5 separate regions of the Homo sapiens genome follow, and all the other regions are linked to region 2. The links come from fine-mapping of genetic effects on gene expression. A gene starts in region 2. Each other region holds a variant in brackets. All regions are shown on one strand. Distances are from middle to middle. Region 1 overlaps LOC105378316 (a long non-coding RNA gene). Region 2 holds the start of UBE2D1 (ubiquitin conjugating enzyme E2 D1). Region 3 holds the start of LOC105378316 (a long non-coding RNA gene). Region 4 overlaps TFAM (transcription factor A, mitochondrial). Region 5 has its middle 4.1 kb from the start of TFAM.

Evidence for each region.
Region 1: its variant is fine-mapped to the expression of UBE2D1 in whole blood (INTERVAL, PIP above 0.99).
Region 3: its variant is fine-mapped to the expression of UBE2D1 in whole blood (INTERVAL, PIP 0.93).
Region 4: its variant is fine-mapped to the expression of UBE2D1 in whole blood (TOPMed, PIP above 0.99).
Region 5: its variant is fine-mapped to the expression of UBE2D1 in whole blood (INTERVAL, PIP above 0.99).

Annotation. Positions count from the first base shown.
Region 1 is chr10:58,448,379-58,454,984 of GRCh38, reverse strand. All of the region lies in intron 1 of LOC105378316 (a long non-coding RNA gene), which reads right to left. Among named protein-coding and RNA genes, the nearest start is that of BICC1, 61 kb to the left of the region's middle. The variant A/G (reference allele first, on the strand shown) is at 3,333.
Region 2 is chr10:58,331,612-58,338,217 of GRCh38, reverse strand. UBE2D1 (ubiquitin conjugating enzyme E2 D1) reads right to left here and starts at 3,212. Exons shown (of 7, transcript NM_003338.5): 1 at 2,993-3,212. The coding sequence starts at 3,016. RefSeq lists a silencer at 2,828-3,347 and enhancers at 3,155-3,449, 3,048-3,548.
Region 3 is chr10:58,433,905-58,440,510 of GRCh38, reverse strand. LOC105378316 (a long non-coding RNA gene) reads right to left here and starts at 6,585. Exons shown (of 5, transcript XR_945984.3): 1 at 6,470-6,585. The variant T/G (reference allele first, on the strand shown) is at 3,789.
Region 4 is chr10:58,395,748-58,402,192 of GRCh38, reverse strand. It overlaps TFAM (transcription factor A, mitochondrial), which reads right to left. Exons shown (of 7, transcript NM_003201.3): 7 at 2,973-6,445. Among named protein-coding and RNA genes, the nearest start is that of TFAM, 14 kb to the right of the region's middle. The variant G/A (reference allele first, on the strand shown) is at 4,342.
Region 5 is chr10:58,378,478-58,384,230 of GRCh38, reverse strand. No RefSeq gene overlaps it. Among named protein-coding and RNA genes, the nearest start is that of TFAM, 4.1 kb to the left of the region's middle. The variant G/A (reference allele first, on the strand shown) is at 1,875.

The sequences.
Region 1 (6,606 bases), 120 kb before region 2:
CTTTCCCTCCCCTCTCTACCATCTGTTTTCTTCAAGGTAGCATATAATGGAAGTCCTGGATTTAAATTCAAGCTGTGTAACTTTCCAAAACTCTTTTTCAAAATATAAAACAGAATAACTGACATTTAAATATTTTGTATTTCTGCTACCTAGAATGAGCTGTATGGGAAGTGATAGGTTTTGACATCCAGGCTTCAGGCTTTGAGGTCCAGCTTCCAGTGGTCACTGCCCAGGAATGGTTGGCTTAGAATTTAGAATATAGGTTTTACTACTTCTTTATCTGCCCAAACCGTATGGAATTTATGGTCTTTGTTTAGCATCTTCACAGATTCCATTCTTCTCATCGAAATACCCAAATGGTATTTTCTAATAGTTCAATACCCTGTTGTTGCCAAAATTTTCAATCTATCCCAGAAGCACATGCCAACTCCTTGGTGATGGGTTTGTCTACCTACAATTTAAGGACAATTACAGTGTATTCTTTTCAGAAGTTATTATTGGTTATTGAGTCATTTCCTAGTGGAAGTGGTTTTTTTCTTCTAGGTCCTCTGGATTCATCATGAGGTATTTGCTAGCTATCTCTTTGCACACAGCAAAATGTGTGCCTGTGATAGAGTATGACTTTTTAGAATGTTCACTAGGCTGGAGTTCAAGACTCAACTTTGTCACTTCCTAGTTCTCTGGGAGGCAGTATCTATGAAGGAGGAAATTAGCCAGCTAGCATTTGAATCCTAGCTATTCGTGAACTGGATGACTTCTAGCTGATATCAAACCCTTGCTGAGTCTCATTTTTCCCATTTGCAAAGTGAGAATGATAATGTCTGCCTGGTAGGGTTTTCTGTGAGTAGTAAATGAGGTACATGTCTAGTACAGTGCTTATTATATTATAATGGGCATTCAACAAAGGCGACATCCATACCAGCCCTTAAGGCACTAATGACCCCAAAAGGGTTGAAATACTCACATGCCCATGGGGTCCAGCACAAAACTGAAGTGAATGAGAATAAGTAAAACAACACTGCAACTGTGAAGGTACAAGGCAACTAAGAGTTGGCCTCAACATTGGAAAGAAAATAGGGAGTACTTATGGCAAACTGAGGAGGGTGTGTTTTATCTAACACACCCACCACACCAGCCCACTGGTGCCCCAATAAGGACAAACACGTATTGACAGATCTTCTGGTATTTCAAACGAAGCCAGAAATCAGACTTTTAGGTAAAGTCTCTCAATTTTTAAATATTGGCTCACTGAAAAACAAACACATACACAAACAAACTTGGATCCCAAACAAAATATTCCTATAGGCTTAATCCAGCCTACTGATGGGGAGGCTCTGCTCAATCACATTCACTTGACATCACTTAAATCTCGAGCTCATATTGCTCCCTAGCTCTTTTATATTACTATGTAATTTTCAGCGCTCAAGCTCTGTCTCCAATTACATCTGTTAAGCCACTTGAATAAGATATTTGAGAGCAGGAATAGTGTCTTGCTCAGGAAATATCCACAGCTGGTAAACTCTCCTTTGGGTGATATCCTTTAAGATCTTAAAATGGGTTGCTTCCCTCCAGAAGAACATGTTGACTTCTTTTTGCCTTGAAATGGGAATACAACAGCTGGCTGCCTCTGGGAGGTTGAAAATAAACAGGTTCAGAAGCTCTGAGAACAGCAAATGGGCGTTGTAGGTGGAGAAACAGCCCAAAATAAATACAGCTGTTGAGGTGGAAAATTCTATTTACTTTGGCTGTTTCGAGGTCTACACTGAGGAAGGGAGAGTTGCTATTCCTGAGACTCTCCATATACTGACAATGGGGGACCCACTCGGGGCTGGTCCCCAGTGCAGGACACATTCATACTCATCATTTCAGTGCATACTTGATGATGAGCACATCAACTGGGTATCTCAAATGAGGGAGGACATTTGTTAAAAATGAAAATGATGAGTGAAGGGCTCTGTACTGGATGGCCTATATTAATGTCTTCCCTGGCTTGGATTGTAACTCACATTGAACATTCCTTAACAATCAGGTTTTGTTTGCTACATAGACCTAACAGAAAAGACGCTAGCTCGGGAGGCAAAAAATCCAGCCTCTAGCATCAGTTTGCTAACTAGTTGTATGACCTTGATGAATCATTGCAATATTCTGGGCTTCCATTTGCTCAAACATAAAGTGAGAGATTGAGAGAGAAAATCTCTAGGGAGTCCGTGAGAAGAGTGGAAAGGGTACGGGATGAAGACCAGAAGGTTTTCATTTATGCCCTGACTCTGATAACTCTCTCCAGTGTGACCTTGGATGGCAAAACACATAATCTGTAAATCTCTGTCTTTACCTATGCCAGGCAGGACTAAGCACAGCCCTCTTCCCAGTATTGCAACTGTGAATGAGAAAATAAAATTTATGTGAAAGTGCTTTTCAAATGGATGTGTGAGTGGCTCATGCCTGTAATCCCAGCACTTTGCAAGGCTGAGGTGAGCGGATCACCTGAGGTCTGGAGTTCGAGACCAGCCTGGCCAACATGGTTAAACTCCATCTCTACCAAAAAAAAAAAAAAAAAAAAAGTTAGCCTAGCATAGTGAGTGGCATGCACCTGTAATCCTAGCTACTTGGAAGGCAGAGGTGGGAGAATTGCTTGAACCTGGGCGGCGGAAGTTGCTGTGAGCCTTCAGTGAGCCAAGATTGTACCACTGCGTTCCAGCCTGGGTGACAGAATGAGACCCTGTCTCAAAATAAATAAATAAATAAACAAACAAAAATCAAATGGATGTGTGAGCATATTGATATCAGACAGATCTAGTTTTCAATTCTGACTGTTACCAATTCTGTGTGCTTATGGGCAGGTGAGTTAAGTTCTGTAAGCATCATTTTCCCGATAATTACAAAATGAAAGTAATATCTACTTCATAGGATTGCTGAGATGACTAAAGTAAGTTAAATAATGTAAAAAAAAAATGTACTAGAGCAGGGACAGGCACAGAGTGCTATAAATAGTAATTACTAGTGCTAGTAAAAACACAAATGATATTGATATAAAATCTCCATCTCAAAAGCCTTATTCTGATCAGCTAAATCTTAAACTTTTTTTTACAATTTGATCTGAACCAAAATTATTTTTCTCCCTTTACAAGAAAAATCATTACAAAACAAAAACAGTGATCCAGTTTAAGTTGAGAATGAACTTAGTTGTTTTCTGAAGTCCACAAGAGAACAGAGCCAAAACATTCAAACATTCTGACCCAAGCTTAGCGTGCTTGCTACACTGAGGTAAAACATTAATGGGAAAGTCTCCTTCAGCCAGGAAATATCACCTTCCCTTTTTCAGAAGGGAGCCC[A/G]TGGAAATGCTTGGGTTTATAGTGGTGGAGGAAACAAAACCAAAAATCTCAGACAGATACTGTTGCAGATTGTGTTCTCAGGGCAGCATTCCAGACTTCCGTAGAACCCAGCTCACAGGAGTAAACTCTTTGTCTTAATGGCTCTCCAGACCTTGCCAGTATCAGAGGGGACACTTGAAATCATACTGCATCCAGATGGCAAGAAACATCTTAAAACTCTCATCACAAGACAAGTGAATTAATCATTCATTTAATCATTGATTTACATATTCAAAACACAGCTATTACTGGTCTAATATGCCTAGCCACAGTACTAGCTCCTGGAGCTACAAAGCAAAGTCCTTTCTCTCAGTAATTATCTGAAATTCAAAGATTCTCACACATATCACTCTGGGGCTTTACAATGTCAGAGCTCTTGTGACTAAATATCAATATACATAAAACAATATTAAATGTTTCTACTTTTCACCATGGATATCTTACAGCTAAAGAGATACCCCCCATAGAAGAGAAAGACTATATACATAAACATGTTTGTGGTACATTATTTATAGTTGTAATAATATAAATGTACAACAAGTTGAATAATAGTTTAAAAGTTTGGGGTGTATGAAATGATGGAATACTATGTAAGACATTTAAAAGGACATAATTACAGATATCAGCATGATGAAAATTGCTCATTCATGCGAGATGATAGAAATAATGCAAAATTATGATGTATCGAAGACCTTCAAACTTGTGTGTGGTTGTAGCTATAAAACATATACATTTGTTTCTAAATAAGGCCTGGAAGATAAAACATTTTTAGTTATATAAAGATAGTGGAATTTTTGATAATTTTTTTCTATTTTCTAGACTTTCTATATTATTACATGTGTCAGCGAAGTAAGATGTTGACACCTGCTGTGATTTGAGTGATGGGAGAAAATGTTTCTTATCCTTATAAGTATCTCTTTCAATCTGTACACAGGGGTTATCAAGTTTTTCTTGTTTTTTCATTTTGTTTTGTTTTTTGAGACAAGGTCTCTCTCTTTCACCCTGGCTGAAGTGCAGTGGCGCAGTCACAGCTCACTGAAGACTCGAACTCCCGGGCTCAAGTGATTCTCCTGCCTTGGCCTTCCAAGTAGCTCGGACTACAGGCATGTGCCACTACACCCAACTAATTTTTTTATTTTTTGTAGAAATAGGGTTTCATTATGTTACCCAGGCTAGTCTCAAACTCCTGGGCTCAAGTGATCTTCTCACCTCAGCCTCCCAAAGTGCTGGGATTATAGGCATGAGCCACCCACACCTGGCCGGTTTATCAATTTTTAATTATCTTTCCAATCTGGTCCCTTTCTACATTCTCATTAATGTTGCTTTAGCTCAGCTTCTCATCTCACCTGATTCCTGCAGTAAGTAGCCTACTAACTCACCTCTGTCTTCATTTCCACACTTCCCAGTTGCTTCTCCCAACCACAAGCTTCTTATCCTCAAATGTTCAGTCCTGGTTTAAACAGCCTTCTCCAAACACACCAGACATGCATATGTATATTATGGTGGTACCTCAAATTGTTATGATCCCTGGCGGTACGGATTTATGGACAGCACAGAAAGGAAGCTGTTTAGCTTCCTTTCCTCTCTTCCACATATCCTCTCTTTGGTATGGCTAATTTGCAGTTCCTTCCATTTAGAAGGACCTGAGAGGTAGAAAAGTATACTGGATAAGACTTCAGCTTCTACACAAGAATAGCTAAGACACTGAAGAATTAAAATAAGGTAAGCGTTTGTCATGCAAGATCTAAGACTGATCAGAAGCTAAATAAATACAATAATCAGGTTATTTGCTCCCAGTAATGATTCAGTAGCTCCCATCAAACTAACTCTCCACATATAACCACAAAAAATCTAGGCAAAATATAAAAAACCAATTCCCTGGAACAACTGGAAAGCAACTAAAAGCAGGCAGAAGCTGGAGTGGGGGACCTGTACTTAGATGAAGGAAATGGAACTGGGTGAGTTATCTATTCTTTAATGGGTCTTTATTTGAGGGTAGGCATTAGTTGGCTAAATCTCAAATAGAAGTCTATAATCTTAGTGGCTTGAAATATCAAATAACAGAGTTTGGGAACCACCACAGCAGCTAAAAGTGAGGGGAGAAGTCCAGGAAAGGAGACAACCAGAAAGGAGAGTCACAAATTCTGCATATAAACTCTGCCCAAATCTCTGGCTGACCCCTAAGCTATGCGTGTGTAGTGCAAATCCTAAACAGCCTGCTAAGGATAAAGGAGTTAAACAAGATTTCACCTTCAAGGTAGACTGAGTTAGAAGTTAGAGTCCAGCAAAGTTAATTGTAAGCAAATTCAGCACTGTTCAGAAGAATATAACAGAATTCAGAATCCAAAATATCATTTAGAATGTCTAGGATAATCCAAAATTATAAAGAAAAAAATAGAATAATTAGAATAATGTGAAGAAATAGGATAATGTGATGCATATTCCAGAGACAATCAATCAGTGGAAACTGGACAGATGTTGGAATTAGCAGAAAAGGATTTTATTAAAACTATCCTCAGAAGCATAGAAGAAAATATGTTCATAATGAATTTTAATTCTGCTTTTTAAAGAAGAAAATCCTCCAGCAGAGAAAAAGTTACTGTTGTTTAAAATGGAAATTCTAGAACTAAAAAATATGTCTGACATTTTTCAAAAGAAGACATATATGCAACCAACAAGCATATGAAAAAATGTTCAACATCTGTATTTTCATGCTGCTGACAAAGACATACCAGAGACTGGGCAATTTACAAAAGAAAGAGGTTTAATGGACTTACAGTTCCATGTCGCTGAGGAGGCCTCACAATTGAGAGATGACAGCATGCTGACAGCCCTCGCAGCCCTGGCTCGCTCTTGGCACCTCCTCGGCCTCAGCCTCCACTCTGGCCCTTCAGCCCGCCGCTGCACTGTGGGAGCCCCTCTCTGGGCTGGCCGAGGCCAGAGCTGACTCCCTCTTCTTGCGGGGAGGTGTGGAGGGAGAGGTGCAGGCAGGAACCGGGGCTGCATGGGGTGCTTGTGGGCCAGCAGGAGATCCCGGTGGGCTGGGCTCAGCAGGCCCCGCACTCAGAGCAGCAGGCCAGCGCCGCAGGTCCTGGGCAGTGAGGGGCTTAGCACCCGGGCCAGCAGCTGCAGAGGGTGTGCCGGGTCCCCCAGCAGTGCTGGCACTGCTCTCAAATTCTCACCGGGCCTCAGCTGCCTCCCCGCGGGGCAGGGCTTGGGACCTGCAGCCCACCAT
Region 2 (6,606 bases):
TCATAGTGAAGAAATGTGAAATCATGAACTTTTTAACACTCTCAAATAGCCAAGCCAATTAAGAGATTATTGGCCGGGTGTGGTGGCTCACACCTATAATCCTAGCACCTTGGGAGGCCGAGGTAGGTGGATTGCCTGAGCTCAGGAGTTCGAGACCAGCCTAGGCAACACGGTGAAACCCCATCTCTACTAAAATACAAAAAATCAGCGGGGCATGGCAGCATGCGCCTGTAGTCCCAGCTACTCAGGAGGCTGAGGCAGGAGAATTGCTTGAACCCAGGAGGCAGAGGTTGCAGTGAGCCGAGATCATGCCACTGCACTCCAGCCTGGGAAACATAGCAAGACTCCATCTCAAAAAAAAAAAGAGATTATCTTTGGACAAAGCACTCCTCCACTCCAGGCCTCTGGATCCTTCCTTGAATAAGGACAGGCCAGAACATCAGTGGTCCTCAGTCTTCTTTCCACCCCAACCGATCTGAGGGATTCAACATCTCTCCATTTATAGAAGTGATGACAGTCTGAAAACGTCCCACAGGTGATTCTAAGACACTGCCTTAGAAGCTGTTCCCCTGCTTGTACCCTCTACTACACTACAGCAGACTTATCTGAGGTTCCACACAACTCTATGGCCTGCCACCATCTATAGGTACAGGAAAATTATATTAATACTTCAGTGAGCTTAAGAAGAAAGGCCAAAAGTTAGTATACATCTTCATTTGTTGGAACATGAAAGATTCAAATAAGAATTCTATACTGATGACATCAAAGAAGATGGTGTAACTGTTCATACGGCAGGCGGCACATCTAACCTAGAATTGGCTTCTAATCAAGGAGGTAGGTAAAGGAGGAGGAAAAGTAGGGAATCAATCAAAATAATCACCCCTAAGGTTTGAGGGATTGGTCTGAATGTGTGATTAATGGAAAGAAGATTTGTGTAAGTCGATTTTCCTGATATCAGAAAGGGAAGCCAAAAATGAACACACAGAGATGTGATGGTGTGTCATCCCCAATTTCTTTTCCAAAATATCAATTTGTCACATGTTTGATATCAATTCTATGTAAGTAATTTTTTTTTTTACTCAACAATTCTATAAACTAATAACCAATAAATACTAAAAAGATTTGGACACACGCCATATTATAAATATAAATCAAATACACTAGTTCAGCATGGTGATTGATGAGAACTGCCAAGGGTGGTATTTACAAATAATGTTCATATTTCTTTGAATATCCACTTACTGTGGACAAATTATACAGCTTAAGCTATTGTTAGTTGGGTATGGTGACTTGTGTCTGTAATCCCAGACTTTCTGGAGGCCAGGAGTTCAAGATCAGCATGGGCAATATAGTGAGATCCCCATCTCTTAAAAAAACACAATGAAATTTAAAAAGCTCTTGTATGTGCAAAATCATGTGAAAAATTCTCACAACTAGGAAAGAAGGAAATAGAATTTGAAAACTTCCTTGGAAGATGTGCATTTTCTGATCCAAATGTGAACCAATATTACTTCGTCATTAATAAGTATGCAAGGTATGGTAAAGATGCTAAGGCTTCAAAATTAGGGTATTTATATAAAACAATGTGTAATTGCGCTACCTTCAAACAAGAAAACATTATTACTTAATAAATGCTGATGCTGATTGTTAACTGTATGTTTTACAATGAGATGACCTTTAAATGGCACAAAAAATAACAGGTGATCCACAGATTTAGAATTTGAAAATAAAAAACTGGCAGGCTCTAAAAGTTGCTGTCCTCTGTACCTAAAGATGTCACCAGTGGCGAGTCAGAATGCAATGCGTACGTCACTATCACTGCTCTAACATATACTATTGCTATAATGGACTCCTGGTCAAAAAAGTGGATAAAAATGTGGGCATCAATTTCTTCTGAAACAACTACAAAATACACTGTCCATTGTTGCTTAACTTAGTGAAAAGCACTCCCTATTTAACAAACACATTCTCAATGTTGCCAGTGTGAACTGTAACTGTAAAACCTAAAACTTGGGTCAGTACACAGACCAACAAGAAATAAAAATGAACAGAAAGAAATGCCCGAATCTGAATTCTGAAGGATGTTCGCATCTGAAATGGTGGCAATAAATACTGTGAAAAAAAGACGATTCCATACACAGGGTTGAGATGGGTAAACAGTTGTTGGATGAAGATATATATTTCTTCCTCATTCTATACCCATGTGTCAAAGCATCAAAACAATTTATTTGCGACAGTTTATGTTGTGTCTCGAACTTTACATCTAAGTTTATCATGAGGGGGAAAAAAACCTGTTTGGCTTGACTCACCGTGAATCACAGCCAGGAGGTCATCTTGTTGTGTATCAGCAACTATGTTTTCGCTACAGCTATGTGACCTGAAGTGGCAGCAGCAGAGGCACCAAAATAGAAGGGGCAGGAGCCTTCTCCTGACTTCTTGGCCGCAAATGGGCTTTCCAGCCCATTCGGGCAACTGAGCAAGAGCCAACCGCAGAGGAGAGAAAGAACCAACCCGACAGCTCCGCGGAGAAAGGCTGCAGGCCCACCCCACCTTCCTTGCCCTCCCGGGGAGGCCGGGTAAGCAAGAACATAAAAGAGGACAGGCTTAAGAAACAGCCTGGAGAAAACACAGCATGACAGGGGTCAAAACTAGCCCCATGGAGGGCAAAACCCGGCCGTGACCGTGAAGCACAGATTTCGGGACGGTCTGGACGCGCAAGAGGCTCTCTACCCTGGGGCTCCGGGAGCGGCTCCGGCGCGAACGCGCGCGGGCCCCCAGCCTTCAAGCTCCTCCGGCCGCCTGGGACCTGACCCTGCTCCCACCTCACCTGTCCGATGCCCGCTGGCCCGGCCCGAGCCTTCAGCTCCCTGCCCGCACCCCGGCCCACCCTTCCATCCCTTGCTCTCCCCGCATGTCTCTCGGGACCACTGGCCGAGTCAGCGTGGGCAGGGGGCCGCTGCCCCGCAGCCCCAGGCCCGGCCCCGGCACTCACTTTCTGAATCCTCTTCAGCGCCATGGGTCAGGGATGGCGGTGGGGACACCGGCCGGCAGGGGTCGGCTGCGGGGCTCAGGGGCGTGGGTCGTCGCGGGTTGGGCTCGCTGGCAGCTAGGCTGGCTCCGCGCGGTGGGTCCCCGGTTAGCCGCTCCCTGGCTCGCTCCGGGCGCCGGTCCCTGCTCCGTGTGCGCCCGAGCGCGAGTGTGCGCGAGTGTGCGGGCGGGGACGCCGGCGAGACTCTTTTGTTTCCGCTTTTGCTTCTGGGAAGGAGCCTGCGCCCTCCCCGCCGCGCCCCGCCCCGCCTGGCACACTGGGAAGTGTAGTTCCAGCCCTGTCCTCGGCTGCAGGCCCCCGGACGCTGCCAGGTAACTTACTGCTGACCTCAGCCAGGCAGCTTAAGGTGAGAGCTGCCGGGGGCTGGAATTAGCCTCTACAGTCTCATTTAGAGCAAATTGCTGAACCTGGGGCTGCGCATCTGTAAAATGGGGATAACAAATGAGCTCCTAACGCACATAAAGGAATTTCTAAATCATCAGTTAGTAATTCCTTATCCAATAGGTGCCACAGCTGGTTTTATTATTTTTACCTTTAAAGATTTCACTGTCTTTTCTCAAATATATGGATTGTCTCACTCACCCTGCACACATGCACAAACTCATATCAGACCCCCTACTTACCTCCTTGGTTCTTATTGCAGAGGAAAAAGGTGTCTCTTCTGTCCAATGTGCAAATCTTCCTTGTCTGAGTGCATTGTCTGCTCGTAGGTATGCCCCTCCCATAAATTACCCACTTCGAACACCGAGTTCTGGGCTCTCACTCCCATCATTGGTTCCTTCCCTTCCGTTGACAGTCCCTGACCAATAGTCAACTCACGCTCCCCACTCTCCAATTCCTATGCACTTGTGTACCCATTAAAACTTGGCTTCTTGGCCAAGATGAGATTTGGGTGGGGACACAGCCAAACCATATCACTCAGGGATATAAAGATGGCAACAAATAGACACTGTGGACTACTAGAGAGGGGACCGAGGGAGCAAAGGTTGAAAAACTGTTGGGTACTATTGTCAGTACCTGGGTGATAAAATCATTCATACCACAAATGTCAGCATCACACAGCATACCCAGGTAGCAAACTTGCATATGTGGCCTCTAAATCTAAAATAAAAGTTGAAAAACAAAAACAAACAAACAAAAACAGAATCTTGAGCCCCACTCCAGACATGCTACATCACACTTTGCAGTTTAATAAGACTCCTAGGTGATTCAGATGAACATTAGGGTTTGAGAAGCACTATGCTGGAAGGCATAAGAGGAGATCCTAAAAATGCAGATTTCCTTTAAAGGATTTAATTTAGCAGTAAGTTTTGGGTGAAGCTCTGGAGTCTAAACTTTAGAACAAACTTCCCAGGAAGTTAGGATGCAGGTATCTGAGGACACTTTTGAGAATCTCCACCTTGAGCAAATCTTCAAATCCTTCTAAGCCTCAATTTCCTCACCCATAACTAATGCAATAAATGTTGTATTTGTTTAAAGGGAATAGAGCTGAAACTTTTGGTGCCCTTCTAACTCAAAGGTCTATGATTTGCACAAAAAATGGTGATTTTTTTCTCTTCTTTATAAATAGAAAGAAACCTAAAAAGTAAGCTTACAAGATTATTTTTGTCTTTCCTAGGGCAGTTTACCTCCCAACAAAAGAGAAATTAACACTTATTAAAAAAATCTACGTTGGTATCTTGCAATAATAGTTTACACTTTAAGATTGCTTTAAATGGGCTGGGCACAGTGGCTCACGCGTGTAATTCCAGCACTTTTGGAGGCCAAGGCAGGTGGATCACCTGAGGTCAGAAGTTCGAGACCAGCCTGGTCAACATGGTGAAACTCCTTCTCTACCAAAAATTCAAAAATTAGCCAGGCGTGTTGGCACATGTCTGTAATCCTAGCTACTTGGGAGGCTGAGGCAGGAAAATCGCTAGAACCTGGGAGGCAGCAGTTTTACTGAGCCGAGATGGAGCCATTGCACTCCCGCCTGGGTGACAGAGTGAGACTCCATCTCAAAAAAAAAAAATTGCTTTAAGCTTTTCAAAACATTTCACACACATTTTTGCAACATGCAAATACATGTGCAACATATAGTAGTTCAGTGTGTTATTTAATCTCCTACTCTTTCTCCCAGGATGTAGTTTCAAAACATAGTTTGTGATCAACTGCATAACTAATTCAAAAATGTTACTTAATGCTTACTATATGCCAGGCACTGAAGACACATGATAAAGAAAATAGACAAGATCCCTACTCACAAGCAGAACATCAAAATCCTATGGGGTGGGGAGGAGGGTACAAGACTTGTTAAAAATGCAGATTTCTAGGCATCAGGCCACACTGTCAATAAATAATCCTTGCCCTCTGAATTATCTCTGTTTGGGATATTATACTGCACTAGGTGGTAAAATATATGCAAAAGAAAGATTATATTTGGTCTTACCTTCCATAAACTTAAAATCTTCATGGTAGGAAGATAAATGCATAAAACAAATAAGTAGCAATGCAAGATATTCATTCATTCAGTCAGTCAGTCAGTCATGCAGACAACAGCAACAACAAATTTCAGGAAAATTTCCTTAAAGCAAAACAAATGGTGCAGAGGATAAGGGCTAAAGATGTTCAAAAGGGCATTGCCATGGACGGAGAGTAAGGGAAACTTTGTAGAGACAATAGAACTTGAATGCAAGACGCATTTGGAAAAGCAAAAGAATAGGTGAAGAACTTCCAATCGTAAGGAAATGCATGTGGAATGGACATAAGTATGAAATGCTCAACATGGAGGCCAAGCAAGGAAATACAACTAAGTCCAATGGTTGAGATCAGATAGTGAAGGACATTGACTGTTAGTCTTAGAAACATGAAATTGAGCTTAAATGCAACAAGAGGTTGTGTATCAGGAGAGTATTATTGTGACAGTGATGCATTAAATAGACAATTAGTCTAGTGGAGGGACATGGAATGAGGACAGAATCAGGAAAGGGAAACAAGTTCAATTACTATTGCAGTATTTAGGACCAAAATAATAAGGGCCTGCCTGTACAAGGTTGATAGCACTAGAAACCCAAAGAAGAACTTTTTGAGAAAAAAAAAAAAAAAAGCCATGGAACTTTGTTGCAATTACATACAGAAGTAGAAAAATAGAAGAGTAAATATGAACTCTAAATTTATGAGTGGTGGATTGAGTTAAAGGTGTTAACATTGATAAGCTTTTGGAGGGGAGAATGGTAAACCGAGCTTAAGACATACACATATATGAAATGTATGTGGTATTCAAGTGGAACTTCCCTAGTGGTAGGTAGAGATATGGGGCTGAGAATATGGATATGAGAGCAATCATGTGAGAGAATGATTTTGAAACCGTAAGATACAAATTGCTTCCCAAAGAGGAAAGGGGAAGACAGAGAAAAGAGAAGGCACTAGAAAATGGGCTTTGGGGAGCAGCAACAGTGAAGACCTATGAGGAAAAAGATGGGTCATGGGTGGGAAAGTAAGTGGAATACCAAGAGTGTTTTGTGTAGTGGCAGCAAAGAAAAGTGAGAGCTTTAGGTAGGAAAATAGCTTCAAAAAGA
Region 3 (6,606 bases), 100 kb before region 2:
ATGTAAACAGGGACAGGAGAATAAGTAGGGACAGGTCCTACATATTTCCGTTTAACACCTTCTGTTTGGGTTCAATTATTAGGTTCACTTTTTAGCTAATGAGGAGTCATTGAAGAACATACAAGTAAATTTTGATTGATAGTAGAATTGAAGGTGGGTGCAGTAGGCAGAATAACAGTCACCCCCAGAGATGACCACATTCTAATCCCCAGAAACTGTGAGAATTAAGGTTGCAGATGGAATTGAGGTTATTAATGAGCTGACTGTAAAAGAGAGAGAGAGAGAGTATCCGGGATTATCCAGCTGGGCCCAATGTCATCACAGGGTGCTTGGTGAAAGAGGAAGTGGGAGTGTAAGAGTCAGGGTAAAATGTGATGGCAAAAGCAAAGCTAGGGGGACACAATGTGAGAAGGACTTGACTGGCTATCGCTGGCTTTGAAGATGGGAGGGGGCCACAAGCCAAAGAATGTGGGCAGCCTCTAGGAGCTAGAAAAGACAAGAAAATAGATTCCCCTTGAGTTTCCAGAAAGGAATGCAGCTGTGCCGACACCGTGGTTTTTATCCCAATGATATAATTTCAGACTTCTGACCTTCAAAACAATGAGATAAAAAAATTGTGCTGTTTTAAGCCCTACATTAATGGTAATTGTTACCACAACAAAAGGAAACTAATACAGTGAGTCAGCATAAAATTTTGGAGAAAGATCAGAACAGGTGACAATACTGGTCCGAGTAAGGGCAGATCAAGGTAGATAGGACTCCAGAGTGGTGAACTCTGGGCCTCTAGAGGGCAACAGGAAAGTATTGAGCACTGGAAGATAGGCATGATAGACCTATGAAGGGGAAAAGGGTCCTGAAAGAAGATAGGCTGTGACCACCTTGACTAATTTCATTGTATTCCTAAATACAAACCCTGGGGAAGGGTTTCCTTCCCTTCCCCACTTTGTTGTTCACTTCTATGCAGTATTCTTTGCCACACTTCTCTCTCCTGAATCCTGATACTGCTAATTGCATTGTCTCCTGGTTGAAAATATAACATGAATGTTCCTAGCATTGTACTTATACTGCATTGCAAGTATTTTATTTATGCTAATTTTCCTTTATTAGACAGTGAGCTCTTTGGGATTATAATCTTATGTCTTTGTGCTGTTAGTGCCTGCCACAGTATATGACTAGTAAATTTGTGATGAAAGGAAGGCTGGAAAGGAACCTCCATCTTCCCTGGATATCCCAGAGAAAGAGAGTTTTTCCTTCTGGAATTTGGCAGAAAGATTCATGAGGGACAGGTAGAGACTTGCTGGGCAGCCAAGAGAATCAGTAACTTTATTGTTCCCATCAGGTATTCTCATTTCCTAGCACGAGCCCTGCCTGTATCTTACCTGAACCATAAGGTATGGCCTTCCCAACCAGTGCATGGGCTGCAAATCTGGAACATTTCTGAGGTTTGACTACAACCTATTCCTACAGTCCTTGAACAAGCACCATCCACAATCAAACCAATGCAAGTTTTATTTGTGTAAAAACTCTTAGCCAGAGTTCTTTAACTCTCAGTTATATGATTGATTACCTTAAACCACACTAGCAATTGGATAAGGCATCAAAAACAGAAAAATCTGCTTATGCAGTTTTTGGATCTGAAAACCAAATGGAAACATTAATTTCTTAAAGCTGAAAGCAGTTACTGGATAAAACTCCTAAGGAATCTTGAACAACCTATTGAACCAAAACAACATCCTGTCCCACAAACGCTTTCAATTCATGTTGTGAAATAAAACAGACATCGTGTTTTTACCCTCAGAACATTAAACATAGTATTGAGCTTCCAGTGCTATGAAATAGATATACAATTTCAGAAAGTAGATGAATAAGTCTCCAGTTCTGTTGAAAAATAATTATGGCTTAATGTTTATTTTTTTCATGTTGAACCTATTGCCAGCTAATTATTTCAAAATGAATCTCTTTCCCAATCCTCTGGAAAAGAATGCTTGGTATGTTTTGATTGGTCAGTGTGCCATCATGCATTTTATGAGCTCTTTGCTTAATCTGATGTTAATGTATTCTTTCCAAGCAAGGGAGAAAGCCCATGCCCAGAGGTGGAAGCAGTGGCACCTGAATTGCTCAGCTGATATTCACTGATAAGAAAGCGACCCTGTCCTCTTTTTTGGTCATATTCTTCCATAATGCCTTCAATAGCACCATGCATTTCTCCATCATCACTGTCTTTGCACACATTCATTGTCTGAATGAGTAATAACCTTTCCAAGGTCTATCTTCCCTGTTATATTGTAAGCTCCAAGAGGATAAGCAACATGTTGGTCATAGTCCATACCCTATTTCTAGTGCCTAATACTGTGCTTAGTATATAGCAAGCACAATTTTAATATATTATGAGTTAATGAATGAATGAACAGGCCCTTGTCTCCTTCCCTAAGGGCTAGGCAGTTTAATCCTAAGACAACCAGGTGCTTTCAAAAATAACTCTTTCTGAACCAATACAGGTGACATGGACATTTTCTTAATATATTATTCTCTAAGGAAACATTTCTTCACTTGTTCCACTACGCTATGTAAACACTCTTATCTGGCAATCTCTTCAGCATGTATACATTTAACGTGTATTTAGTATTTTTCTTTTCTAACTTTTTATTGTGCTTGTATCTTATCAAATCATATTATTTATACGTTTTTACTGTGTATGCTCCTAGACTTCCTCTCTGCCTGCTCTGATCTTTGGATGCTGCAGGCGAAGCACCTTACCTGTCCCAGCTTTAGATTCCAGCATTAAATGCTGGCATTAAGCCCATACCAGCCCTTGGATAGGCAGAGATCAGATACTGTTTGACATTAACAGAGAAATGAGATCCTAATGAGGACACTCTCAGGCACCAATATGAATTAGCATGGAAATGGCCAAATTCAACCTTGAAGTTCTGCTCTCTTTTCGATTTCTTCTTCATATCAAATAACCATCAAAAAGTAAGTAAACTTTCAAGGGAATGATTTGTTGGGTTATGGTCTCAGATTTCAAGAAATAGGGCTTCTAGGGAAAAGCATCGGCACGTGTGATGTCATGAGAGGAGGGGAAGAGGAGGGTCTAAGGCAGAATGCCGCCTCTGCTCAAAGATGTTATTCATTTTATACCACATTTCACCTCTTCCCTCATGCCTTTCTCCAGTCTTCAAAAATGTGAATTTTGGTCACTGTTGGCCTTGCCTCTTATTGCAAAGAAAGTTTTGTCATTTAGTGACTGGGAAATAGCCTGTTGTATGAATTGTATTTAAAATTATTGTGCAACTGGGACCATAAGCATGAATGTATAAGGGTTCACAATCTTCCCTCTCTGTGACTGCTAGCTTGTCTCCAGGACTCTGTGAAGCTAATCAGGCCAATGGGTAGAAAGATCTGATAACTGGAAGATAAGATACAGACTGGGATTTTTTTTTTCAATCTTATAAAGAGACAAATTTATTTATTTTTGTGTTTTGTTGGGAGAGAGGGAGGAAAAAGACCAGAACCCTGAGTGCAATGCAGGGATGAGAAAGAGATTTTGTGAGTTGAGCAAGTCTTTGAAAAAAAACTTCAGAGTGATGGGAAATAGAAAGAAAGATGCAGAAATAATTGTTAGGATGTCTGCTAGATATTCTTCTGACATTCTTCAAGAGTCCCTGGTAAATATTTGAATTATTTTCCAATTAGTCTTGGTGTTCAAAGTTGTGTTTATTTGAATGTCATATAAACTGGACCACATGGGTCAACATATTTAAATTGACTTCTTTTATCCATATATA[T/G]AGAGAAATCAATATTGCAGGTAGGTGAAACCCAACCAATCAGAATTTTCTTAACTAATTTAACTTGTATTTTCCTTGAGAACTCTTAAGAGAAACAAATAAATGAAAGACAATTATTTCATACAAGAAATTCTGTTAGAATACACACATATGCAACTGTTACAGAATAGAAACACACTTCAATCTTTAATACTTTTTACAGACACAACTCTAATCAGTAACATGAACATTCGACTGAAATTTAAAATGGTGGCCCTGAAATACTTTTTAAGTCTCAATTTTTGTACGTACTAAAGAAAGATAATCAAAAGATATTTTTGGCATGAGACCCAATCCCTTCTGGCCTGAGGCATTGTTATGAAAGGTAGTTTGTTGCATACCTGTCTGGCTACCTAAAGCCACTTCCCGTTTGCCCCAAGAACACTGTGCTGGCAGTGAGCCACATTTTTTTCCAAACAGGAAATGGGTTAAAGACACAGCATGCAATTCTGAAGGGACCCCAGATCAGCAACTTACGGACACATGTTTGGAAAAGGAAACTTCACTTTGATGCATCAATCATTTTTCACTCTGTTCCTTTTCTTTAAAAGACGGGACTTTATGAGCAGTACCTTAAGGAGAAGCAAACTAAGATTTCTCTGTGCTCTGAGGAAACTCTAAAACATTGAAGGGCAAAACAACTAGATTTTTATCTTTCCCATTGGAAACTTTTTCTCAAAATGACCCATTCCTATCAGGCCTTTGGGGCTCCTCCTCAGGTATGTTTCTATTCTCTATTAAGACAAAGGGGCAGGCTCTCACACCCACACAACACTGATAGACATCACTTGTGGCCAGATTTTTTGTTTGGGTTTTTTTTTTTTTTTTTGCCTTCTTTAACTTCTGTTGAGAAGAAAGCCCTGAATTCCAGCTTCCATCAATTGGCTGTCATCCCAGGCCACACAATTGGCAAAGCCCTGCATCCTAAGACCTCCCAAAAACAGAGAAGCCTGGGGATCTGAAACAGGTACCACTGATTATTTTAGCTGTAGAGGCCTTTTGTTGTCATTTGCCACTGTTACTTACACAATTCTTTAGTCGTGACTTTTAAGTCTCTCACTTGGTCTTTTTTCCACTGAAGTTTTATCCTGATTCATTCTTCCTCTTCCCAGACCTTGGCTTGTGACATCTCTGCTAGGATTGATATCAACACCATGGTTGTGTTTATGTCTCCCCCTGCATGCCAGGCTCACTGATGTGGTGAGTGGAGCTCTGGGAAGCCGAGCTGAGGAGGCTGAGTCATCAGTCATCATCTCTTGACTCCCTGGGTCTGACCAAAATGACAGAGGCTCCTCACACTAAAGTGTACTGGGAGACCACAGCAAAAAAGAGGCAAAGGACTTCTCCCATTTGACTCTAACCACTTTATAAAAGGTCACATTTTTGTCATAGCAGTAGGGAGATGTTAGTGTGGAAATCTCAATGCAGCTTCCATTCCATTTCGTTTTTCAGGCCACAGCTTAAATGACCCTTTCTAAATGGTAAACCACATTGAAAAGCTATTAAAGCTTAATATAGGCATACTCTGTGACCCAGCATTTTTAATTCTGAATATATATATATGCATATATACATTTATATGATATATTCATATAGCATATACATAATATATATAATAGAAATCCATTCATATGTTTACCAAAAGGCATGTACAGGAATGTTCATAGCAGTACTATTTATTTATTTATTTATTTATTTATAGAGACAGAGTCTTCCTCTGTTGCCCAGGCTGGAGCACAGTGGCACAATCACAGCTTGCTGCAGTCTCAAACTCTTGGGCTCAAGCAATCCTCCTGCTTCAGTCTCCCAAGTAGTTAGGACTACAGCTGTGCACCACCACAACTGGCTAATTTTTTTTTTTTTTTTGAGATGGAGTCTCACTCTGTTGCCAGGCTGGAGTGCAGTGGCGCAATCTTGGCTCAGTGCAACCTCCTCCTCCAGGGTTCAAGAGATTCTCCTGCCTCAGCCTCCCTAGTAGCTGGGACTATAGGCGCCCACCACCACACCCAGCTAATTTTTGTATTTTCAGTAGAGACAGGGTTTCACCATGTTGGCCAGGATGGTCTTGATCTCTTGACCTTGTGATCCGCCCACCTCAGCCTCCTAAAGTGCTGGGATCACAGGTGTGAGCCACCATGCCTGGCCCACCTGGCCAATTTTTTAATTTTTTGTAGATACAGGGTCTCCCTATATTGCCCAGGCTGGTCTCAAACTCCTGGCCTCAAGTGAACCACCCACCTCCGCCTCCCAAAGTGCTGAGATTACAAGTGTGAGCCACCATGCCTAGCCATAGCAAGACTATTGATATTAACAAAAAACCAGAAACTGCCTGAGTCTCCATCAACAATATAATGATATATAAATTGTGGCATATTTACATGATAACATACTGTATAGCAATGAGAATGAAAGAAATATAACTACACACAACAATATGGATGAATACCACAAACATTATATTGAGCAAAAAAAGCAAATAGAAAAAAAATACTGTATGCTTTAATTTACGTAAAGTTAAAAACTAGGCAAAATTACGCTGTTAGAAGTCAGGATAGAGATTATTCTCGGGGGTTAGGAGTGGAGTATGGGGAGGTCTTCTGCCCTTCTAGTAACTTTCCATTTCTTATGTAGACACTACTTACCCTGATGTGTTCAGGTTGTGAGCAAGTTATGCACTTTTCACTTTTTATGTTATGTTTTAATTAAAAACTTTTTAAAAAGTCATCTTCTCGTATGTGCTACAATATGGATGAACTTTTGAAGACATTATCCTGAGTAA
Region 4 (6,445 bases), 64 kb before region 2:
TTAACATATTTTTGTATGCATGCCTGCATCCTAAATCCTAGCCTTGTTCTGCCTTTAGAGCCCTGGATACAATAACCTAGAGGGACCAGAAATCTATAGGTCTAGGTAGAGAAATGATCAAATTGAAGGAATTCAGCTCCTTCTTCAACATTCCCCATCTTGGCTGCCCAAAGAAACTTAAGCATAACCTTTTCTATCTTTCTCTACCTTATCTCTCACACTCCATCAATTATCAAGTCCTGTGGATTCAACTTCTCAAATATCTCTTGAATTAACCGAATTCTGTCCATCCTAACACGAGGCAATTGAACGTGCTGTTTCTCCTGCCTTTCCACAAATATAGAAGACTGTCAGCTGCACAGCAGCCACTCTCACTGGCAGGTTAGCCCACAATCATGCTCCAAAATTATGTAGAGAACAAATTTATAATCTGCCATAAGCAAGTTAATATGAAGATGCCACTGATGACACAGAATACTAGAAACTAATATACAAAAGCACCAACTTTAATTACAGATCCAATATATCCCTATCAAAACCCAGCTGGTTTCTTTACAGAAATTGACAAGCTGATCCTAAAATTCAGATGAATATGAAAGAGATCCAGAGTAGTTAAAACAATCTTCAAAAAAATCAAAGTTGGAGATCTCAGATTTCCTATTATAAAATTTATAACAAATTACAGTAGTCAAGACAATGTCATACTGGCATAAAGACGACATATAAATCAATGTAATAGAATTGAGACTTCAGATATAAACCCATAGATCTGTGGTCAATCGATTTTTCACCAGGGTGTCAAGACAATTCAACAGAGAAAAAATAATCTTTTCAACAAATGGTGCTAGGAAAACAGATATCCACAGGTGAAAGAATGAAGCTAGACACCTATCTCACATCATACACAAAAATTAACTCAAAATGGATAGACCTACATGCAAGAGCTAAAACTATAAAACAGAAGAAAATACTGGGGGTAAATCTTCATAATCTTCAATTTTGCAATGGTCTCTTGGATATGACACCAAAAGCACAAGCAACAAAATGAAATAGATAAACTGGACCCCATCAAAATTAAAATTATTGTGCTGCAACTGATACCATCAATAAAGTGAAAAAACAATTCCTGGAATGGGAGAAAATATTTGTAATTAATTTATTTTATAGTGGCTTTATGTCTATTATATATACAGAACTCCTGAAACTGTAATAAATGAGATAACCCATTTCAAAATGGGCAAAGAACTGGAATAGATAATTTTCCAAAGAAATACAAGTGGCCAAGAAGTACATAAAAAAATGCTCAACATCATTAGTCAGAATGTAAACACATCAAAATCACGAGATACTTCAAACCCACTAGGATGGCTATAAAAAAGACATACAATAACAAGTGTAAGATTGCCATATACATGATTCACTCATTATCAGCCACTACTGAACTGCCAGCTTAGGAAGTTAGGAAGCTCTGAGTTATAATACTACTCCCACCAATGATAGCTCCACATTATTAAATCTAAAGAACTTTTTTAAATGGCCAGTTCCACCCTCCAGATTCTGGCCCAGCTATCTGCATGCACTGACGGTTGATTCTACTCAGCCATAGTCAAGAATCACAGCACCCGGCTTGAAAAAAAAAACAAAAAACCTATTCTGCAGTAGCGTATCACTCTACTTTCCTCAGTTTTGAGTAAAATATTCACTGGGGAGAAAAAAGCAAACCTTACGTCTACTGATACCTACCCCTCTCCTGCCCCATGCACCCTGTAATTTCTCTCCAACCACCTTAAGGGCCTTTTTTTTTTTTTTTTTTTTTTTAAAGATAGGGTCCTGCCATGTTGCCCAGGCTTGACTTGAACTCCTAGGTCAAGTGATCCTCCCATCTCAGCCTCCTGAGTAGCTGCGACTACAGGAACCAGCCACCACACACCCATGTCCACCCACCTTAGGGTTAATCTTTGTTACTAGCCCTCACTACTCAGAATTGGTGAGACCTCTCCATTTCTGCTTCACTCAGCTTACGTGGTTTGCTCACACTGACACCAACAAACACCTGTCAATCCCTATGTCCCTCCTGTCTTCCAAAAATACCTAGAAATTGCTGCTCTATTGACGGTAGTATTTCTTGTTTTCTAGTGTTGCTATTATTTGTCTATTGTACTTGGTTTTGCATTTTAGTCACCTGAATGATATCTGGAAGAAGGCGGTTTCACCATTTCAAATCTTTTTTTCACCATTTTATTGTCATTCAGGTTACTACAAATGGTAAGTAGAAGCTCTGCAAAAGTAAAAACTGAGTGGGAGGAAATCATTTTGGGAAAATATTCTGAACTATTTCAGTCCAATTAATATTTGATACTAAGCTTCTACAGCATCAGATGTTACTTATGTCAGCATAAGGAGAAAATTCCTATACTTTAAAAAAGTTTCCATTACCCCCATCTAAATATTGCCTGATAGTCACAGTATAAATTCAAGCTTGGAAAAACTACTGGCATCACTAAGTATCCCCTGACACCAAAGTTCCTGTTCATCTTAGTTACACAACTACTGATGACCTGTTCTGACTGGTGACTGAGAGGAAAAAATAAAGAAATGAGTAAGATGGTCGGTAATACTTCAACACTTCCCAGTGATTAATACATTTGGACCCGTCGTCTCATCACTTAATCCTACCCAACATTTAACGCATGAAATTTCCAGTAAAAAAAAAAACAGAACCTCATAGATGGGTCTAATCAAAACTGCCCTTTCTAAAAATATGAAGGCTAGCAGTTGGTAACCTATATAATAAAAGGTCACTGTGTCAAAACTATGTACTCCTTTCCCTCTTCCCCCATTGTATACCTGATTTGTGGGAAGGGGGAGACGAAATGGGATAAATTTTAAATTAATACAGGCAAAAAAGAATAAAGTCAGAGATTTTCTTAGACATCACATATGTAAATCAGAAACCAATATATAAATGATGCTTGGTGATGAAAAAATGTTTAGTTTATTTAAAATTCCTGTTTAGAGTCAACTTTATTTACTGGCTCCTGTAACCAGTGAAACATTCTGAAATGTATTAGATAATGGTTGTATGTTTTATATATTTCATATCGAATATAGTAAGTGATTTAATCAATTAACAAAAGTCCTTTATTTGTGAACAATGAGAGAGACTGACACTAGCTTTGTATGGTTTTACTTTGGAAAATTTTACAAATTTAAAGTAATAAATGTATTCATTTTCTTACTCTGCAGAAGTTCAATTTTAAAAAGAACATTACTGTTCTAAAATTTCAAAACATACAACATAGTCTGTGCTTGTAACATTTTCAGATTTGTCTGTGACAGCTTGATGTTATGAAGAGAAGGAGGGAGAATGGCTGTGAGTGGAGAAAAGAGCGAGAGAATATTCTTATAGTAAATGTTAGTAAAATTAAGAGAAATAATGGGTACTGTCACTCACAATATAAAAACTTCCTGCTGTTTTAGCACAACCTGGTGGTGATAAATTTTAGATACAGAAAACATCAGAAAAATCAATAAAGTGTTCTAATTACTTTAAATCTACTTATTGTACGCTATTTTTTTTCAATTCAGAAATCTAAATATACACATTCAGAGCAATTAGTAAAAACTAACACATGCCTTGTACAAAAAAAAAGACATTTCCAAAAAGGAGTTAGCCAAACGCAATAGCGTAATTACAGAATTACAGCAAGCTGAATACGTACACAGTATTATTTAAGCAAACATCAGAAAGTAAAATAAATACACAACCCTCCTTCCCCTCATCAAATTACTTTTGTAAAACCTAACATTGGTACTCCAAAGAACAAAAGTATAAAAACTACTGTATGCCTATTCATGACAGTATACACCCTGCTTGATTTCATTTCTTCAGCATCTTTCCTTCTAACACTCAGCTCCTACAGCAACTACTTTGTTGGATGAAATTAAGAAAAGTCTAAAAAATAATAGCAAGGCTTGATGGTCTGCACCTATAATCCCAGCTACTCAGGAGGCTGAGATGGGAGGATCTCTTAAGCCTGGGAGTTCAAGGCTGCAGTGAGCCATGATCACATCACTGCATTCCAGCTTGGACAGAGCAAGACTGTGTCTCCAAAAGAAATAGTAAGGCTTTATGGTCAAGCATGGTGGCTCACACCTATAATCCCAGCACTTAAGGAGGCCAAGGAAGGAGGAACGCTTGATGCCAGGAGTTTGAGACCAGCCTGGGCAACATAGCAAGATCCCATCTTGATTAAAAAAAAAATACAAAAATTAGCCAGGCATGGTGGTGTTCACCTACTGTAGTCCCAACGACTCGGAAGGATCACTTGAGCCCAGGAG[G/A]TCAAGGCTGCAGTGAGCCAAGATCACACCATGCCCTCCAGCCTGAGCAATATAATGAGACTCTAACACACACACGTGCACACACACACACACACACACACAAATAAGACTTTATATGAGTGGTCATTGGTTATGATGTTCTTATTCTTTATAAGAGAAAATCTGTGTATACTGTTACAGCTGAATGGCATTTGGTATATGGCATGCCAGTCTTCCACATGTACTGATGTTTAAGAAAGGCTTGGATCCAGTGTGTATTCTGGATGTCGGGGGAAAAAAAGGCTTGGAAACCAGGTTATCCTATTATTTAAAATATTAAAAATTACATTATTTTAGAAACAGAGAACCAAATACAAGCTGATACTACCATAAAATTACCATAAAATAGTTTTGCTCTTTTTTCACTGTTTACACCTTTCCTCCCTATATTAAGTTGTTAAGTACTTGAGAAACGTACTTAACACTGAACTTCCCAATATATTTGGGAAGGTATGATATGAATGTTAAGTATAAAATAATACGGGTAGTTAATGTTAAAAGAACTCAGAGGAAATTTCCCCGCAGGGTAACTACAAAGATGTTTTCTATGCTGCATTTGTCCCGAGATGTTTATGTAACTCATTCCTCTATCTCAATCATTACATACCCCTCATTACAAACACTCCTATGTGCTCTCTGAGCTCATCTGAAGAGAACAGAATTGAGTCGATGATTTGAGTTATGATTTTCTCCATTCTCCTAGGGACTGTACATAATTAGTACCATTCTAGATGACACAGGGACTTAGGGCTTTTTCTCCTGCAAACCTAATTGAGAAAGCCTGTGATAGACACTAGCACACCTCCTTCTCTTTCCCCCTACTCCCAGACTGCTCTGGCCTCAAACCCATCCTATCTATTTCACCAATGGCCAACACTGTCCTGTCTGCACCCAGAGTGAGAAGCTCCCACAGGGAAAAGTTATTTTAAAATATCCAACTTTATATATTTAAAGCCTCATATTTCCTCATAAGCTACTATTTTTCTCTCCCATTCCTACCTTTGTCAAGCTCAGCATATAACAAGTCATCTTTTTGTGACATCAAAGTCTTCAAAGTCTTTCTGGAGATCTAGAATCTACAATTTCTAAATATTTTGCATAACGCATAAAGTGCATATAAATTGAGTTATCCTATATCTGTGAACTGATGAGAATTATTCTGCTCAAACAGGTGGTGAAAACCTTTGCTTGACTCTCCTAAAAGGATAAACAAATACTAAAGAAAGATGGCTTTCAACTACAGTGAGGTTCTTGTGATATGTGCTACTGGAAAAAGTACATTTTTACCAAGCCATAGCAAATAATTTTAAAAGAATATCATTCCACAGTATATGGATCTTTTTCATTATACTGCAATGTAATTTGAAACTAGATTATTTTCCTTGCTAACACTGAGAAGCAACAATTTGTTTAGATTATCTAGTGATGACCTTTTTCCTCTTAAAGGTGACAATGATTCTAAAACAAGAACATCTGAAAACATTTGAAAAAACTATCCCAACACTTCAATACATTGGAACAGTAGTCATATCACACTATACTATAGACCATGGGTTGATAAATTTTTTCCATAAACAGACAGACAGTAAATATCAGGCTTTGTGGGCTATAGTTTCTGTGGCAGCTACTCTGCCACAGAAAAGCAGCCATAGACAAGTAAAAGAATGATCTTGGTTGTGTTTCAACAAACTTTATTTATGAACACTAAATATTCATGTTAATTTTCAAGTATCATAAAAGTCTTTAAAAAAAAACATTTAAAATTATAAACACAATTCCTAGCTCACAGGCCATAAAAAGCAGGCAGCAGGCTGGATTTGATCCACAGGCCATAGTTGGCTGTCTCTTAAACAGGCTTTTATACGTTATGCAAAGTGTTTCAAATTCCAGAGACTTTGGAGACTTTTCGTTTTTTAGATTTCTCATTTTAAAACACACATAATACAAGTTTTCTTTCTGGATCAATATACTCACGAGAGAAAATAATTCAGAAAAAAATAAAATTCCTTACTTAAAAAAAGGGAAAAGCTATAGAACAAATGTTTCGTCTTAAAATATATTTAGG
Region 5 (5,753 bases), 46 kb before region 2:
CTTTTATAGACTCCCAGGGTTGAAAGGGACCTTCCAAGTCATCTGTTCAAACCTCCCATTCTGGCATGGAATAAACAGGTTTTTTTCCTGAGTATATACTATGTACAACGCCCTAAACATAGATAAAAGACACAGTGTTGTGCCCCAGCCCACCCCCCGCCCCCAGCCCCAAAGGTGAGGCAAAGTAGCAAATAATTACAACATGGGGCTCAGACAGAAGTTACATTTAAGTTGATTTCTAAAATAATTTGTTTCCCTTTTTGTTCTAGAATGTTTTTGTTCTTTCAAATGTTTGACATAAACTTCTTTTGGATATTAAACTTTTTGTTGTTTTCGACTTTCATTTGTATAAATCTTGCTGTAAAGACCTTAAAAATCAAATCCATAACATTTTTCATCAGATACCAATCTTCCTTAAAACTCATTTACATTGCAGTGATAATTTTACTTCTAAAAGCAGAATTTACAAAGAAACATAACTTTATCCACTAAAACTGTCTTTTAACAAAAAGACATGGTATATAATTACTTTATAAAACATGAAGACTTACTGCAGCCTTTCCCAGGGTCCCTTTGTTGTAAAGTTCTCTAGTCCCATGACTTCAGCTATTAGTTATAGCCTCATGACTGCCATATTGAACCCAGTCCTCTCCTTTGAGTTCCGTATCCACATAACCACTGTCTTCTGTACATTTTCACCATCATGTCCCACAAGTACTTCAATTTCAACATTCCCTGAACAAAATCCACTATCTTTCACCCATCTTGAAGTCCTTCTCTTGGTAAGATGCACATGTTTTCCTCTTTAATCATCTGAGCCAATAACTTGATAAATCATTTTAGAATCTCCCCATTGACACTCCACCTGCCATTAACCAACTGATGATGAGTATTGCTGATTCTGCCTCATTCATCCCTCTAGTATGTATTTCCTTCTCTCTAGTCCCATTGCTGTTGCTTTTGTTCAGGCCAGTAATATGCTGGTAAATAGCTCTCCAAAAAAGAAAGCCCCAATTTGTGGTGTTTGCTGAGTTCTATGGTGTAAATACTCCCACCATTGGCAGATTTCATGCTACTGACAAATTTTTCTTTTCCTGTTAACATGCAAACATACATATTACATAACCAGCATTGCTCCTTTCTTCCTGTTGAACTTTTAATATTTCTTAAATTAGTAATATTTGAGCAGACACATTGTGGTAGTTGATGAAAAATTAAAACAACACACCCTGAAGTTGGATTGCACTTTAATATTTTCAGAAATTTTTAAATAACTTTATTTGACTGTATGATTCAAATATCAAAGGAAAAGGTAGAGAAGGTATTGTCATGATCATTATTCCCAATTTCCAGATGAGAAAAATGAAGTTCAGAAAGCCCAACTCATAAGCTTCCAACAGTAAGTTGTGTAGGTAAAAATTGCAATTCATTGTCCTGTGCTTTTCGTTTGTATCAGATCACTCAGACTCAGTGAACATGCCACATCATTCCAGCCCAAAATATCTTTAGTGGATCATCTATAGTGTGTGAGCTCACATCACTTACTTGTGACATCATGTACCACTCTGGTTTCTGATCTTTTTCTCTATGTATACATATTTTTTTCCACAATAGATGGTAAGTTATATTAGGAAAAGACTAAATCTTATGCCTTCTTTTATCCCCTATTGTACCTAGCACAGTACACTGAGCATGATAGATGGATGAAGGGACAAACGGATGGATAGGTGAACTGACAGATATATAGATAGATAGATAATAGATGACAGACAGACATATAGATACACAGAGAGAGATGAATAGTGTGAAAAGATTAGCATCTGCACAAATTATTTATATATAAATTTAGCCCCATAGAGAACAACTACCTGTTA[G/A]AAGTGTCATTTGCCAATAGAAGGACACATTTGCCAGTGTGTGGAGATGGAAACCATGTAAAATTCTGAAATATATATACACATGAAAGTAATGATTATGGTTCATTGATACTTGCACATTGGTAAAGCAGAAGGTAGTGCCAATAAACAGCAGGAGCAGCCAGAAACCTGGATAATTCCCTGCTGAATAATGGAGTTAGATGCACAGATATCACTCAAATGAAGAAAAAATGTTGCTAAGAGAAAGCAGTCTTGGCTTTTGTAATTATAATAGATAAATAATTTAGCTACAACAGGAGCAATTACCTAATAGGTTTTAGCAGGATAAATAGATGTGATTCTGAACTTGTAAGTAAAATATCTCTGGAAATAAGATCATACTATGGACACCACATTTAAAGACAATTTCCTCATAAGCAATTACAAAGCACTGTGATAAGCACTTGAAAGGGGCACAAAAAGCATAAGATATTGATCCTGCCCCAAAGAGCTGACACTGTGATTGGGGGAACAAAGCATAAAGACACAAAAGGAATAAAAGTATAACAGTGCATTGCAGCAATGAGAAAAAATTTTACACCTTGAATATCTCCTAGCTTATTTTTTCTGTGAGTCAAGATTTTAATAAATTATGTATGGAAAACTACTTGTATAATTTTTTCTTTCAAACCATTTTTATTGACATAGAGTCTGTTTTCATGCCACTGGAGTTTGCCTTTAAAATCAATATACAAAAAGAAGGAAGGGAAAGAGAAATAGAGAAATTAGAAGAAAGACCTGTTGCATGTTAATAGTTCCCAGCTACCCGAAATTATTATTATCTGTGAAATATTTCTCAATTAGAACAAAGTCTGCATGCAGCCTTAATTATTAAGGGCATATCAGAATTATTTTAAGCCATTGCTGTAGCAGCATTACAAAAAATAAATGTAGCTTGTCTATTTTAAAGCTGATTCTATGAGTCAGCAGGAGGTAGGACAAGCAAAAAGAACAGCTATAATTTTATGCAAATGTATAATACCCCAATTCATATTACTGGATGTTACTGAAAGCTGACTTCATATTACTGAAAGCTAACTTAAAGATCGGAAGAAATCCAGAATGATTGTATTGAAGGAATAATGCTGTTAATAGGACAATATAATGTGTCTGCCCTCATACCACGGTAAAGTATCTGATCAATACAAATGGTAATAATTATAATTTATTGCTAAACTACATGCCAAGTATTTTACATACATTATCACTAATCCTTTCATAAATCCTCTAAGGTGCTATGATTTCTACTGTACAGCTATGAAAACTGTATAAATAATAGGAAGGATATCTTCCTTGTTAGCATGTTAATAACAAAAATTGCCACCTCTGAATCCACAGTTTGCAGCTTTGAAGTTATATATGACTCTACGTAGATACAGGATAGGTAAATCAGTCATGAAGCGGTAGTTTTCTTAAACACCTGCTCACATTCTATTATTTCCAGTCCCCATAAATGCTTTCTTATTTATCTGAGTGGCTTACTAAAATAATATCTTAAGCCAGGGCAATGGCACATGCCTGTAGTCCCAGTTACTTGGGAGGCTGAAGCAGGAGGATTGCTTGAGCCCAGAAGTTTGAATCTAGCTTGGGCAACATAGCAAGACCCTTTCTCTTAAAAAGTATTCAGTCACCCAAAAACATAGGTTTGAATTTAAAGAACTACACATACACATATGCATGAGTGTGCGTGCAAAAGTAAGAGTGCAGAATAGTACACAAAATTTGGTTTAATAGTGATTGTATCTGAGTATTGCAGGAGTGCATGGGTGGTACTCATTTTTTAATTTATATATTATCTTAGTCTTCTTGTAAAACACAATAGTAATATTCATCTTTTAGTGATAATTTTTTAAAAACTCAGTTCCTAGGAGAGGCCAATACTGTGCCAGACACTGTGCTAAGTTCTAAAAGTACATATGGTTGGGTGCAGTGGCTCACGGGGGAGGATCACTTGAGCCCAGGAATTCGAGACCAGCCTAAGCAACACAGTGAGACCCCCGTCTCCATAAAATAAATAAATAATACATACAAATACGATTAAGGCCCGATCATCCATTTAAATTTACCTGGGAAAGCAGGGGATGGCTTCATAGAGTAGGTGACATTTGAACTGTTTTTTCGAGTGGGGAAAGGTTGAGATGCCTTCCAGAAAAGGAAAACAGTATGTGCAAGTCACAGATATTTATGAGGGCATGGTATATGTGAAAAGGAGTGGTATGAAACAAACCTCTTTAAATTTGAGTGGGGTTGGGTTGTAAAGGACTATGTATAATTTAAGTTTGTTAGGAAAATATAGCCAAACAACTTTTTAGGCAGGTTACAGGCACAATTAAGTTGTTTTTATAAAAATCCCTTTAGTAGGAGCACAGAGAATGATGGGTGTGAGAAGACTGTTGCTGTAATCCAGGAAAGAGGGTCTGAGATTCTGAAGTAACATGGTGCCATGGCTCATACTCCAAAGGCCTAAGTATAATGGGCAAGATTCCATTGACTGGTTAAGTACATAGAACACAAGAATGACTTTAAGGATTCTACCTTGATAGACTATTCCAATTCCAATTGCATACTCTGCTAAGTGAATATCCCCAAGCAAATGCTTTCATTATATCATTTGGCTGGTTAAAAACTTACACACTTCTTACTTGCTATCGAACCAAGATTTCATATCCAGCAGATCTATGTTCTCCACCTAATCTTTTCTCTCATTCATTGCACATGGACTGCCAGTGCCATTCTCACTTATTTCTACTTTATTACCTTTGTTTGGCTTCTCCTGTTTTCATTAATGCCTTCCCTACTTAAATATGCCAATTAGAACCCTAAGTATCTTCCAAAGCCTAGTTCATTCATTTGTTTAGTGAACAACTATTTAAGTACTTGTGTGCCAGACACTGTAGATCCCAGCAAGCATAAAGATGCACACTGGGAATCATGGTAACATTGATGAGAACTATTATTACCTCAACAGCTAAGAAAAGGAGTGACATAAAAATTAGAGATTTAAAGGATAGGGAAAGAGGGCATTTTGAGCGGAATGTACAATTTGACCAAAATCTGAGAATGAGAAGCACCATTCTATACTGGAAGTGGGGAGAGGTTGGGATCCAGTGAGAACTGCAGGCAGTTTGGTGGGAGTCGGGAATGGCAGATGAGACTGGAGATGCAAGCTAAAATTTACCACAAGAGTCTTAAGGACTTGATACTTTATTCTGTTGGTTCATGATTTAAACAAGGGGAAAGAACCTGAGAACCCAAAGGGTCCTGATATACGTATCAGATAAAAATGAGCTTCACTGTTTGAAGTTATAAGTGGGTCCAAGTTAAAGTCAGGGTCCAAAGGCTAAACCATTAGCATCTCCCTTCTTTTTTCTGTAGGTCCCTCTGCAAAACCACTGCTGAGTCTGTGGGGAACTATTTAAAAATGTTAAAGCTGATAACCCACAAGATCAGATTTGGGGTTAGAATACTTTCACACTTCTGTGGATGATGGACTTGAGGGTAGGGAAAAGATAGGATGTTGTGGTAGTACCATCAAAAAATGAAGAGGTAGAGATTTCTGCTTCAAGAAATTCCACTGAGAATCAGAAGAGCTGCATAAAATAAAACCTTATAATTGAGAAAGTGTGAGAGAGCTGCAGAAGTCATGAGACTTTCAGAGGTGAGCTGAGTATCTGTGGTCATTTTTCTCCTGGAGTACAGGTTAGAGGCTGAGAATTTGGGCTTTATGCAGGCAGAGGAGCACTGCTGAAGGACAGAGTTTTTTGTGGTTGCACAGAGCTGGAGTGACAAAACTAGAGACTTAAGGAACCTCAACATACAACTAGTTTCCCCCTCAAGTAA